Homo sapiens: one gene and its partners. The protein of the gene in region 1 interacts with the protein of each later gene in a pairwise test. Each region holds a gene or a part of one and is shown on either strand. Other genes may lie near its edges.

Region 1 (3,651 bases):
TCCACCTGCCTCAGCCTCCCACAGTGTTGGGATTACAGGCGTGAGCCACCACGCCTGGACTAGTTTTCCCTTCTTTAGAATGGGGTCATAATAGTATCTACCTCAGAATTACTCTAAAGATTAAATGAGAAAATCCACGTAAAGTGCTAGGTATGGTGTTGGGCATGTAGAATACTCCAAGTGGAGGAGTAATGCAGTTATGCAGATTGAAGAGGCAATGTGATAAGTATTCAATGGGAGTAAGTGTAAGGTACAGCACGGGAGAGTGAGATACCTAACTCAGTCTAGGGGTGCATTTTTAAAAGAGGTGATATTTAAGCCAACAACTGAATCACTGGTAGAAATTAGCTGAGTGAAGAAAGGAATGCTATTCCAGCAGAGGAAATAGCTGCACAAAGCCCATGAAGCAGGTAAGACAGCCTAGTATTTTGGAGGAACTTTAAGAAGTTCAGTGTAGTTGTAGTGATGTGGGGGAAAGGGGTAGGAAATAAGACTAGAAAGGTAAGCAAGGGCCAGATCCCAAAGGGCCTTGTATGCCTTTTTGGGGAGTGTGACTTCATCCTAAGAGTAGTGAGGGAGCCAGTGAAGTGTTTTGTCCCATTTGTGCTTTGGAGTGCTTACTGTGGGGTGCTGTGAGAATGGATTGAAGCAGGAGAGACAGGAGGCAGGGATACCGGTTTTGACGCTATTGAGGTAATCTAGGCTAAAGAGAACTGTGACCTGGTAGAGGAGATTTGAGAAGCACTTGGGAGGTAGATTTGAGAAAACTTGGCCTTAGGTTTGGATGATTAAGCAGAACGGAGCTCCATTCACTGAGATGAGAACACAGGGAGGCATGGGTTTGGAGGGAAGGTCCAGTAGGCTGCTGGATATGTGGGTCTGTAGCTCAGGAGTGATGAAGCTGGAAAGATTTGAAAGTGTGAGCACAGAGGTAATTGAAGTCTGGGGATGGTTCTTGGCTCATTGTTTATTGGTTGCGTGCTTCTCTCCTATTTCAAGTGGCTCTGCTGGTGAATGCTTGAACTGTTCCTCTTGTCTTCCTGTGATTGTTTAACCCCTTAGTTTGGGCTTCCCACCTCCTCCTGTGCACTTGAAGGGTAGCTCTGGGGTACAAACTTGTCTTTGCAATGCTCCCTCCTCCATTCGTCATCAGGGCTCAGCTTGGAACAGCCGTTGATACCTTTAAGCTTCACAGGGGTCTTGAGGTTAGAAGACTTGAGTCCTCAGAACTGGAAAGAAAAAAAAAATACCGGACTTTCTGAGGTGGTTATTTGGGAGGAGGTAAGCTCCCTACTGCTTGCGCAAGTGCAGGTAGAGATTCCAGGTGGTTCTGCAGAGATTCCATTATTAACTGAGAGGTTGAACTGAAGAGTCTTTGGGGTGTCTTCCAAAATGTGGCTTGGCTCTCAAAGTGACTCTAGGTGCTGGGACGAAAAAGAATGAGATTTTTCTAAGAGTCCCTGATTTCTGGGCTTGAAGGCTCTGAGAGATCACCCAATCCAGCCTTCCCCTCTACCTCTGTCCACAGTAGAAATTCATTATATTTGACAAAGACATTTAGCACAGTCCCTCACACAGACACATGCTAGGCACTCACTCATTTATTGAGTGAACAAACAGAAGGGGGTAGTGTAGAGTCATGCAGACCCTGACTTGAATCCCAACTTGCCCATTCTAGCTGCATGATCTCAGGCATGTTATTAAACTCTCTGCCCCTTAATTTTCTCATCTGCAAAATGGAGATGACACTGTTTACCTCACAGGACTGAGGATTAGTGAGAGCTGGTTGAACTGGAAGCACCTAGCAGAGCCTCAGTAAATGTTTGTTGCCCCCAGTCCCCCCAGGGCATCAGATGTAGCTTATTTGCAATCAGCCAGAGCCCTAGAGATAGTTTTTCTGTGTTGCTTCAGAAGCTGCAGTTACTGAACTCTTCCTGTCCTTCCCCTCCACCTGCCTTCACAATCCTGTTTATCAGTATGAAATAACTCTTGGAAAAACTCTAAAAAGGGCTGGGAGCATGGAGTAGTGTAAAAGAACGTGGAGTCAGGGATGCTGTTTTTCATTTCTGGTTCAGACCTTTGCTAACAACTCAGTGACACTGGGTGACCCTCTGTGAGGTGGGGACCACCTCATCTTCTTCCCCAAACTTCCTGTGCAGCCTGCATTCTGTCTCAGTTGGCTCCACCTCCTTCATCTTGTGCAAAAGCTAGAAACCCGAGTCATTCTGAACACTTTCCTCACTCCTCCTCCATCTCTTTCCTAATCTAATTAGTCACCAAGTCATGTCTGGTCTATCTCTGAAATAGCTTCAGAATCCATTCCGTTCTCTTCATCCCCAAGTGTGCTGTCTGGTTCATGCCCTGCCTGCCCAGCACCTGGGCTACTGCCTCCCTCACTGGCTCATCCTCCACACCGCCGCTGGTTACTTCTCTAAACAAGGTTCTCATCACGTTCCTCTCCTATTGGAAACCCTTCTATAGTGCTCTGTTTTCTCCGGCATAAAGCCCCAACAAAACTCTTTAGAGTGGTGTTCATTTGTCCAAATATTTGTGGAGGCTTGCAGGTGCCAGGCACTGTGCTGGGCCCTGGGGTGCCATGATGAGTGAGGCGCAGTGTCTGCCCCTGGGGAGCTTACTGTTGGGTGGGGGAGATGCTAGACAGAAACTACTCTTAGACACTGATACCTCACGGCTAACTGAAATGCAGGGGGAGAGGTGCTTGGTCAACGAGTGTATAGAGGGCCTGCCTTTCTGGGTTCACACTGCATTCTTGGCTCTGCGGTTTAACTCATTCCCTGAATGCACTATGCTCACTCTTAAGTCTGTGCGTTTGTCTTTCTTCTCTCTTCTGTCTGGAGTGTCCTTCCCTGCCTGCCTTTTGGAAAATGTCTATGCATCCTTCAAGGACCATTTCCAATATCACTGCCACTTCCTCCAGGAAGCTTTCCTTGACCCACTTCATACATTGTTCATTTATTCATTCTGCAAACAGCACAAATTCCTCCATCTAAGCTTCCTTGATAGCACATAAGTAGATTTTTCTGATGGCACTGATCAGATTGTATCACAATTATCTGTGGGCCCCTTAAGGGCAGGACTTCATTTACTTGTGTCCTCAGATCTACTACAGAGCCTAGTACAATATTGTCACTCTGAAAATGCGTGCTGAATGAAGTCCTTTAACAGCTCCGTGGCTTAGTTTCTTCATCTGTAAAAGAGGGCAACTAACATCTTCCTTTTTTCTGTTAGGAGGCCATTGGCAAGATTCTGCCTGTAGTGTTTGTGTTTGTGAAAGTACTTTGTAAACTACAGAGGAGGTCTTCAAATGCAGGACAGAAAGGAAAGGGTTTAATTGCTGCCAGACTACAATAGCCAGAAGGGCAGGAGACCTGCCTGGCAGCACCTGCTTTGTTGGCCTGGGGATGTTTCCTAGGTGGTTTATAGGTGGTTTCCTAGGTGGGTTTTCCTAGGTGCCAGGTGCGGTTTATAGCTTTGCTCACAGGGCTTATAGTGGGGCAGCTACTTCTGGCTTCGTGTCTGGCCTGTTCTTTGGGTGTGCCCAGATTCTGCAGAGTTCCCACTCCCTTTCCATCCTATGCTGGAATCCTGAGCCCTATTGCTTAATGAAGGAGTGTTGTAGCAGGAGGCAGG
Region 2 (3,651 bases), on another chromosome or scaffold:
TCTATCCAGTCGAACACCCGCTGGTTACTGCTGCCCTCCTTCAGCAGCTTCTCCAGCTGCCTGTTCAGCTCCTCGGAGGGGAGTGCCCTCTGGCCAGGGGCTTCCGACTCCTCTCCCAGGGTATACTCCACCTTCTGCAATGGAAAAGGCCCGCAGTTAAGAGGTAAGGTTGCCAACAGGAGACAAGAAAGAAGACTGGCCAGCCTCAAATGCTAGAATTAACCCAACTCCATCCCCAAACCTGTTCAGCGACGAATGCACCAATGTCCTGGCCTTCAGGTAGAAATTCCTTCCAGCTAAGCCCGGCTTCTCGCCACAGCGTCCCCACCTTTTTAGGACCCTGGAAAACACAAGACCAACCCAGCTTACCAAAGCTCTCTCTCTCCAAGGACCCAACAGCTCTACCACATTAATCCAACAAATATTTACTGAAAGCCTACTAGGTACTTGCTAGGCATTAAGGATGCTATAGAAATACTAATAGGCAAAGCCCTTCCATTCCTACGGTCTGGTGCAGGGCACAGATGTCAGTCAAATAACCACCCAAATAAATAAGAACTCGTCCCAGGAGCGGGCGGTGGCTCACGCCTGTAATCCTAGCACTCTGAAAGGTCGAGGTGGGCGGATCACCTGAGGTCAGGAGTCGGAGACCAGCCTGACCAACATGGTGAAACCCCGTCTCTACAGAAAATACAAAAATTAGCCAGGCGTGGTGGTGGGTGCCTGTAATCCCAGCTACTCGGGAGGCTGAGGCAGGAGAATCGCTTGAACCCAAGGCGAGGGTTGCAATGAGCTGAGATCACGCCACTGCACTCCAGCCTGGGCGACACAGCGAGACTCTGTCTCAAAAAAATAATAATAATAAAATAAAATAAAAGAGAACTTGTCCACCAAAGTGCTATGACACTAGGGTAGGAAAAATGATGTAAGGGCCTCTAGGAAGGGACAACTTCTAACAAGTATGCTTGTTTCCTAAACCCAGAAAATCTTAAGACACAAATATACCCCATCCCTAACACAAATAAAAAATCCTCATAAAACCAGCAGTCTGAGTGCATTTTCTGTAAGGGGCAATAGACTATGAAGACATCACTCTTTTCTTTATAACAGACTAATGGCACTGGCTCTTAGCAAGATTATTGCAGTTCACAGATTTTAAAACATGCCCATTTTTTCACATTTTAACTAAAAGTTGTCTTACAGCCGATATATATCTTTTTTTATTTTGAGACAGAGTCTTGCTCTGTCGCCCAGGCTGGAGTGCAGTGGCACAATCTTGGCTTACTGCAACCTCCCCCTCCTGGGTTCAAGCAATTCTCCTGCCTCAGCCTCCCAAGTAGCTGGGACTACAGGTGCGCACCACCATGTCCAGCTAATTTTTTTGTATTTTTAGTAGATACAGGGTTTCATCATGTTGGCCAGGCTGGTTTCCAACTCCTGACCTCACGTGATCCACCCACCTCTGCCTCCCAAAGTGCTGGGATTACCACGCCCGGCCCAGTCTTTTCTTTCTTAACAGCGCATAAAGAATGTCTTATAATCTATGGCACCTTGGAGTTGATGAAATACACAAATAGTTCAATATGCTTATTTGTTGTTAAAAAACAACTTGTCCTGGTACACGTCTATTTAAAAGAATTAAATGATGTTGACATAACAATTCCTTTAAATCCCAAGTGTGATTCCTCCAGGTTCCAGATGGCTGAACCCTTGAAACTGCACACACTCACCCCAACTTCTCACTTCCACTAAGTACCACATTCAACTTACCTTTCCCCATCTCTTTACCTTTATATTCGCTAGTTACCAATTAACTTTCACAAAGCCGCTTCAGCACCCTGAAAGCCTCCTGTCACAAATATTGTCAAATATTCCTTTGCAACCCCACAGTACTTAAGATACTCCACTCTATTTCAACTGTTTTATGTCACGCTTTACTGTTGTTTTTATCAAGCTGTCATTTCTTTTTTCTTTTTTGGAGACAGAGTCTTGCTCTGTTTCCCAGGCTGGAGTGCAGTGGCACAATCTCGGCTCACTGCTACCTCCGCCTCCCGGGTCAAGTGATTCTCCTGCCTCAGCCTCCTGAGTAGGTGGAATTACAGGCACCTGCCACAACACGGCTAATTTTTGTGTTTTTAGTAGAGATGGGGTTTCACCATATTGGCCAAGCTGGTCTTGAACTCCTGACCTCGTGATCCACCCACGTCGGCCTCTCAAAGTGCTGGGATTACAGGCGTGAGCCACTGCGCCCGGCCCATTTCTTCCTTTTTCTCTACCAACTTGTTTCTTGTGTTTTATTCATTGCTGTGTCCCTAGTGCTTAGTATATGATAAATGATCATCAACAAAACCCTAGTTCAATGAATGAATAAATAAATGCATCAATCACAGGCCTAGGGTCTTAGACTGCCATTCTCCTCCAGTCTTGGCCAGAACTCATGATAGGAACTGGTGTGCGGGAGATGGCCCACCTCAGTATTTCCTCTCCCAGGTACCAACACAATCCTGTCATCACCATCACTCCACTCCACCAATGGACCATGAAGCTTCAGGGCCACAGCAAACAGCCAAAACCACACCGTGGGAGGCATCTCTGGACTCCTGGCCCTCACTCACCATGCTTTTGCACAGGAGGCCCAGGATCTCCAGCAACAGGGAAGCAGCTTTGCCCAACGGTCTCAGAGGCTTTGTAATCTCCCTACAAGAAGAGAAAAACCTAATGCTGACAGCCTCCACAGTTCTCTCACCACTACTCCATCTCCCTCCAAACCAGGGTATCCAACCCAGCCATTTCCCTACCACCTTTCCTCTGGTCTTTACCTCCCCTGAATTCCACCCAGGGGGACTTACCTGAACAGCTCCCCCATGGGCACCCCACCTTCCTGCAGAATGGGTGTTACCAGTTCCGCTAGGTAGAGCCACACGTGGGGGATGTCAATTTCCATGTCCTCAGCCAATTCCAAGATTTCATACAACCTGCCAAGGGAATTCAAAGTCAAGACATTCTAGGCCAGGTCCCCACTCTCCTTCTGGGGCAACGTGGCATGGCTAGGGCATCAACTATGGAACCCCCAGGAACATTTTCTAGACATGGGGACAATTATTTCAAGCTAAGGCCACCTCTGTGTCCTTAGATGGTTTTCACCCCGCTTAACCCCCTAAAGTTATGCTGACCAGGATGGTCAAGGAACCCATACTGTTTTTTGGTTTTTTTTTTGAGACAGTTTTGCTTTTGTCACCCAGGCTGGAGTGCAATGGCACGATCTCGGCTCACTGCAACCTCCACCTCCCGGGTTCAAGCAGTTCTCCTGCCTCAGCCTCCGAGTAGCTGGGATTACTGTGCCACCACGCCTGGCTAATTTTTGTATTATTAGTAGAGACAGGGTTTCACCATGTTGGCCAGGCTGGTCTAGAACTCCCAACCTCACGTGATCCTCTAAGGAATCCAACCCACCTTGGCCTCCCAAAGTGCAGGGATTACAGGCATAAGCCACCACACCCGGCCAGGGAACCTACACTCTTATGCAAGGTTCCAAGGGTCCCAAAAAGGAGATAGAAAATTGTGGGTCTGTATAAGTGGGAGGCCCAGAGAAGCTGGTCATACCCTTGGTAGTACTGAGCAGTAGACAGATGCCCAGCACAGAGCAGCTGG
Region 3 (3,651 bases), on another chromosome or scaffold:
TTTTTTTTTTAAATTTTGTTTTAATTGACAAATAATAATTGTACATATTTATGGGGTACATAGTAATGTTTCATTACATATAATGGGATTAGATCAGGGTAATTCGCATATCCATCACCTCAAATATTTATTTCTTTGGGTTAGAAACATTCAATATTCTCCTTCTAGCTATTTGAAATTATATAATATGTTATTGTTAACTGTAGTCATCCTATAGTGCTATAGAACACTGGAACTACTTCTATCTAGTTGTACTTTTGTGTCTTTTAATAAATCTCTCCCTATCCCTCTTTTCCCCTACCCTTTGCAGCCTCTACTGTCATCTGTTCTGCTTTTTACTTGTATAAGATCAACTTTTTTTAGCTTCCACATATGAGAGAGAGCATGTGGTATCTTTTTAACTTAATGTCTTCCAGTTCCATCCATGTTGCTGTGAATGACAGGACTTCATTCTTTTTTATGGCTGAATTGTATTCCATTGTGTATATATACCATATTTTCTTTATCAGTTAATCTGTTGTTAGACACTTAGGTTGATTCCATATCTTGACTATTGTGAATAGTGCTGCAGTAAAATGTGAGTGCAGATTTCTCTTCAATATACTGGTTTCCTTTCCTTTAGTTAAATATTCAGTAGTGGCATCGCTGAATTGTGTGTTAGTTCGATTTATAGTTTTTTGAGGAACCTTCATACTGTTCTCCCTAGTGGCTGTACTGTTGACATTCCTACCAATAATGTGTAAGAGTTCCCTTTTCTCTTCATTCTTGCCAGCATTTGTTATTTATCTTTTTGATAATAACCATCCTAACTGGGGTGAACCTTGTTGTGGTCTTCATTTTCCTGATATGTGTGCATTTCCCTGATGATTTGTGATTTTGAGCATTTTTTCATATATTTATTGACCATTTCTATGTCTTTTTTTGAGAAATGTCTGTTCAGATCATTTGCCGATTTTAAAATCGGATTGATTGTTTTTTAGCTGTTGAGATGTTTGAGTTCCTTCTATATTCTGAATATTCATCCTCTGCCAGATGAGTAGTTGTATTTCCTCCCATTCTGTAAGTTCTCTTTTCACTCTTGATTGTTTCCTTTGCTGTGCAGAAAAGTTTTCCAGTTTGAGATAATCATATTTATTTTTGCTTTTATTGACTGCACTTTTGAGGTCTTATTCATGAAATCTTTTCCCGACCTATTAAAGAGGTTATCCTTTTCCTAATGAGTGGTCTTGTCAAAAGTCAGTTGGCTATAGATAACATGGATTATGTTCTTTTGTTCTATGTGTTCTATTGATCTATGTGTTTGTTCTCTTGGTCAATGGGTCTGTTTTTATGTCAGTTCTGTTGGTCTGTGGGTCCGTTTTTGTGCCAGTCCATGCTTATTACAGCTTTGTAGTATATTTTGAGGTCAGTAAGTGTGACACCTTCAGCTTTGTTCTTTGCTCAGTATTGCTTTGACTGTCTGGGGTTGTATGTAGTTCTGTACAAATTTTATGGTTTGTTTTTAAATTTTTATGAATAATTTTATTGGTAGTTTGATAGGGATTGAATTGAATCTGTAAATTGCTTTGAGTAATTTTGTCATTTTAACAATATTTGTTCTTATATAAGCATGGGATGTCATTACATATGTATGCTCTTTGGTTTCTTTCATCAGTGTTTTTTTTTTTTTTTGTAGAGGTTTTTCATCTTCTTGGTTAAACTGCTTCCTAGATATTTAAAAAAATTTTTGTAGCTGTGGTTAATGGGATTGCATTTTTTATTTTTTATTGTATGTGTATAGAAACACTACTTATTTTTGTGTACTTATTTTGTTTCTGGCAGCTTTATTGAATTCATTTATTGGTTCTAAGGGTTTTGGTAGAGTTTTTAGGTTTTTGTTTATATAAGATTATGTCATCTGCAAACAGGGACAGTTTGCTTCCTTCCCAATTTGGATACCTTTTATTTTTTTCTCTTGCATAATTGCTCTGGCTAGTACTTGCTTAACTGTCTTTTTTTTATTTTTTATTTTTTTGTCTTGAGACAGGGTCTTGCTCTGTCTCCCAAGCTGGAGCGCAGTGGTGTGATCATGGCTCATTGAAGCCTTGAACTCCTGGGCTCAAGCAGTCCTTGCAACTCAGCCTCCCGTGTAGCTGGGACTGCAGGCATGTGCCACTGCACTCAGCTTCTTATTCTTAATGTTTATCAAAATGGGGGTCTCACTGTGTTGCCCAGGCTGGTCCTGAACTCCTGGGCTCAAGCGATCCTCCTGCCTTGGCCTGCCAAAGTACTGAGATTACAGGCATGAGCCAGTGTGCCTGGCCTTTAACTGCCTTTTTTCCCACTTGAAGATGCTTTGCCTTTATCTCAAACTGACCTCATTGACTGGCTTTCTCTTAACTACTGTTTAGGGCAAAGGTCAGCAAACATTTTCTTTAATAGATCAGAGAGAATAAATATTGTAGCTTTGTGGGTCACATAAGGCCTCTGTCTCATCTTTTTTTTACAATGTAAAAACCATTTTTCATTCACAGACCTATAACAACACAGGGATTTTGTCCGTTGGTCACAGTTCATGGACCCTTAGCTTGAGGTGTCCTCGTTGTAGTTTGTCTTCCACATTTAGTTACAACTTTGTATTTCATGGTTTTTTTTTTTTTTTTTTTTTTTTTTGAGACAAAGTCTTGCTTTGTCGTTTAGGCTGGAGTACAGTGGGGTGATCTTGGCTCACTGCAGCCTCCACATCCCAGGTTCAAGTGATTCTCCTGCCTCGGCCTCCCAAGTAGCTGGAATTATAGGCACACACCACCACACTCGGCTGATTTTTGTATTTTTAGTAGAGACGGAGTTTCTCCATGTTGGCCAGGCTGGTCTCGAACTCCTGACCTCAGGTGATCCGCCCACCTCAGCCTCCCAAACTGCTGGGATTACAGGTGTGAGCCACCGCACTTGGCCAAAAAGTTTTTGATTGTTTTGATTTGTGTCCGTTAGATTCTGTTAGTAGAGTGGAGGGATGGCTTAGGTAAAGTTCCTGCCATCAGAGATACTCTGTTTCTGTTGTAGGATTCAGAAAAGAAAAAAAGAACAGGAAGTTTTCTTCTTTTACATACATACTTTATTTTCTTTAAAAAATGTGTTTATGAAAATTGAACATTAAACAAGTATGTTATGGGAAGTGGGTCTGGCTATAAGGAGCTAAAAACAGTTATAAAATTCTCAGTTTTGTCATCTTTGCCCAAAATAAATCCAACTAATTAGTGTTAAAGTAGGTGCAGCAGAGCATCCCAGAAGTAGTCTTGTGGCCTCCCCAGGACAGAACTCCTCCCCACCCAACTGTTTGTGAAGACACCCTGCAGAGGTCCCTGATGAACTCCTTGTCTCTGGCTGCTTTTCTGTTCTTGCTTTCTTTAGAGAATGTATTTTTCCCTTAGCCCTTTGAAAGCTTTTGAGACACACAGTTGGTATGCCAATTATAGCATTCTTTATCCCTGAGATCTGGGGGATTTCACGGTCATAAATACACACTGTTTTGAATATATAAATATTTTTCTGGGGAGAGTTGATTGTTTTCATCTTAATATCAAAATGGTCAGTGACCTGAAAGAATTTACTGTCTATCCATTCATTAAAGCAGTTTTGCAACAGTAGTGTTTTACTCTACCTATGATTAAG

Evidence for each region.
Region 2: the proteins of PEF1 (region 1) and EIF4G1 interact in binary tests that used the Homo sapiens proteins (3 or more experiments, as listed by UniProt).
Region 3: the proteins of PEF1 (region 1) and TFG interact in binary tests that used the Homo sapiens proteins (3 or more experiments, as listed by UniProt).

The regions. Positions count from the first base shown.
Region 1 is NC_000001.11:31,638,359-31,642,009, reverse strand, and holds part of PEF1 (peflin), read left to right. Parts: exon of another isoform or gene 1-401; coding exon of another isoform or gene 402-410; intron 411-3,651. UniProt on the Homo sapiens protein: Calcium-binding protein that acts as an adapter that bridges unrelated proteins or stabilizes weak protein-protein complexes in response to calcium.
Region 2 is NC_000003.12:184,327,955-184,331,605, reverse strand, and holds part of EIF4G1 (eukaryotic translation initiation factor 4 gamma 1), read right to left. Parts: coding exon 3,604-3,651; intron 2,976-3,603; coding exon 2,850-2,975; intron 2,698-2,849; coding exon 2,616-2,697; intron 341-2,615; coding exon 242-340; intron 135-241; coding exon 1-134.
Region 3 is NC_000003.12:100,715,924-100,719,574, forward strand, and holds part of TFG (protein TFG), read left to right. Parts: intron 1-3,651. UniProt on the Homo sapiens protein: Plays a role in the normal dynamic function of the endoplasmic reticulum (ER) and its associated microtubules. Required for secretory cargo traffic from the endoplasmic reticulum to the Golgi apparatus.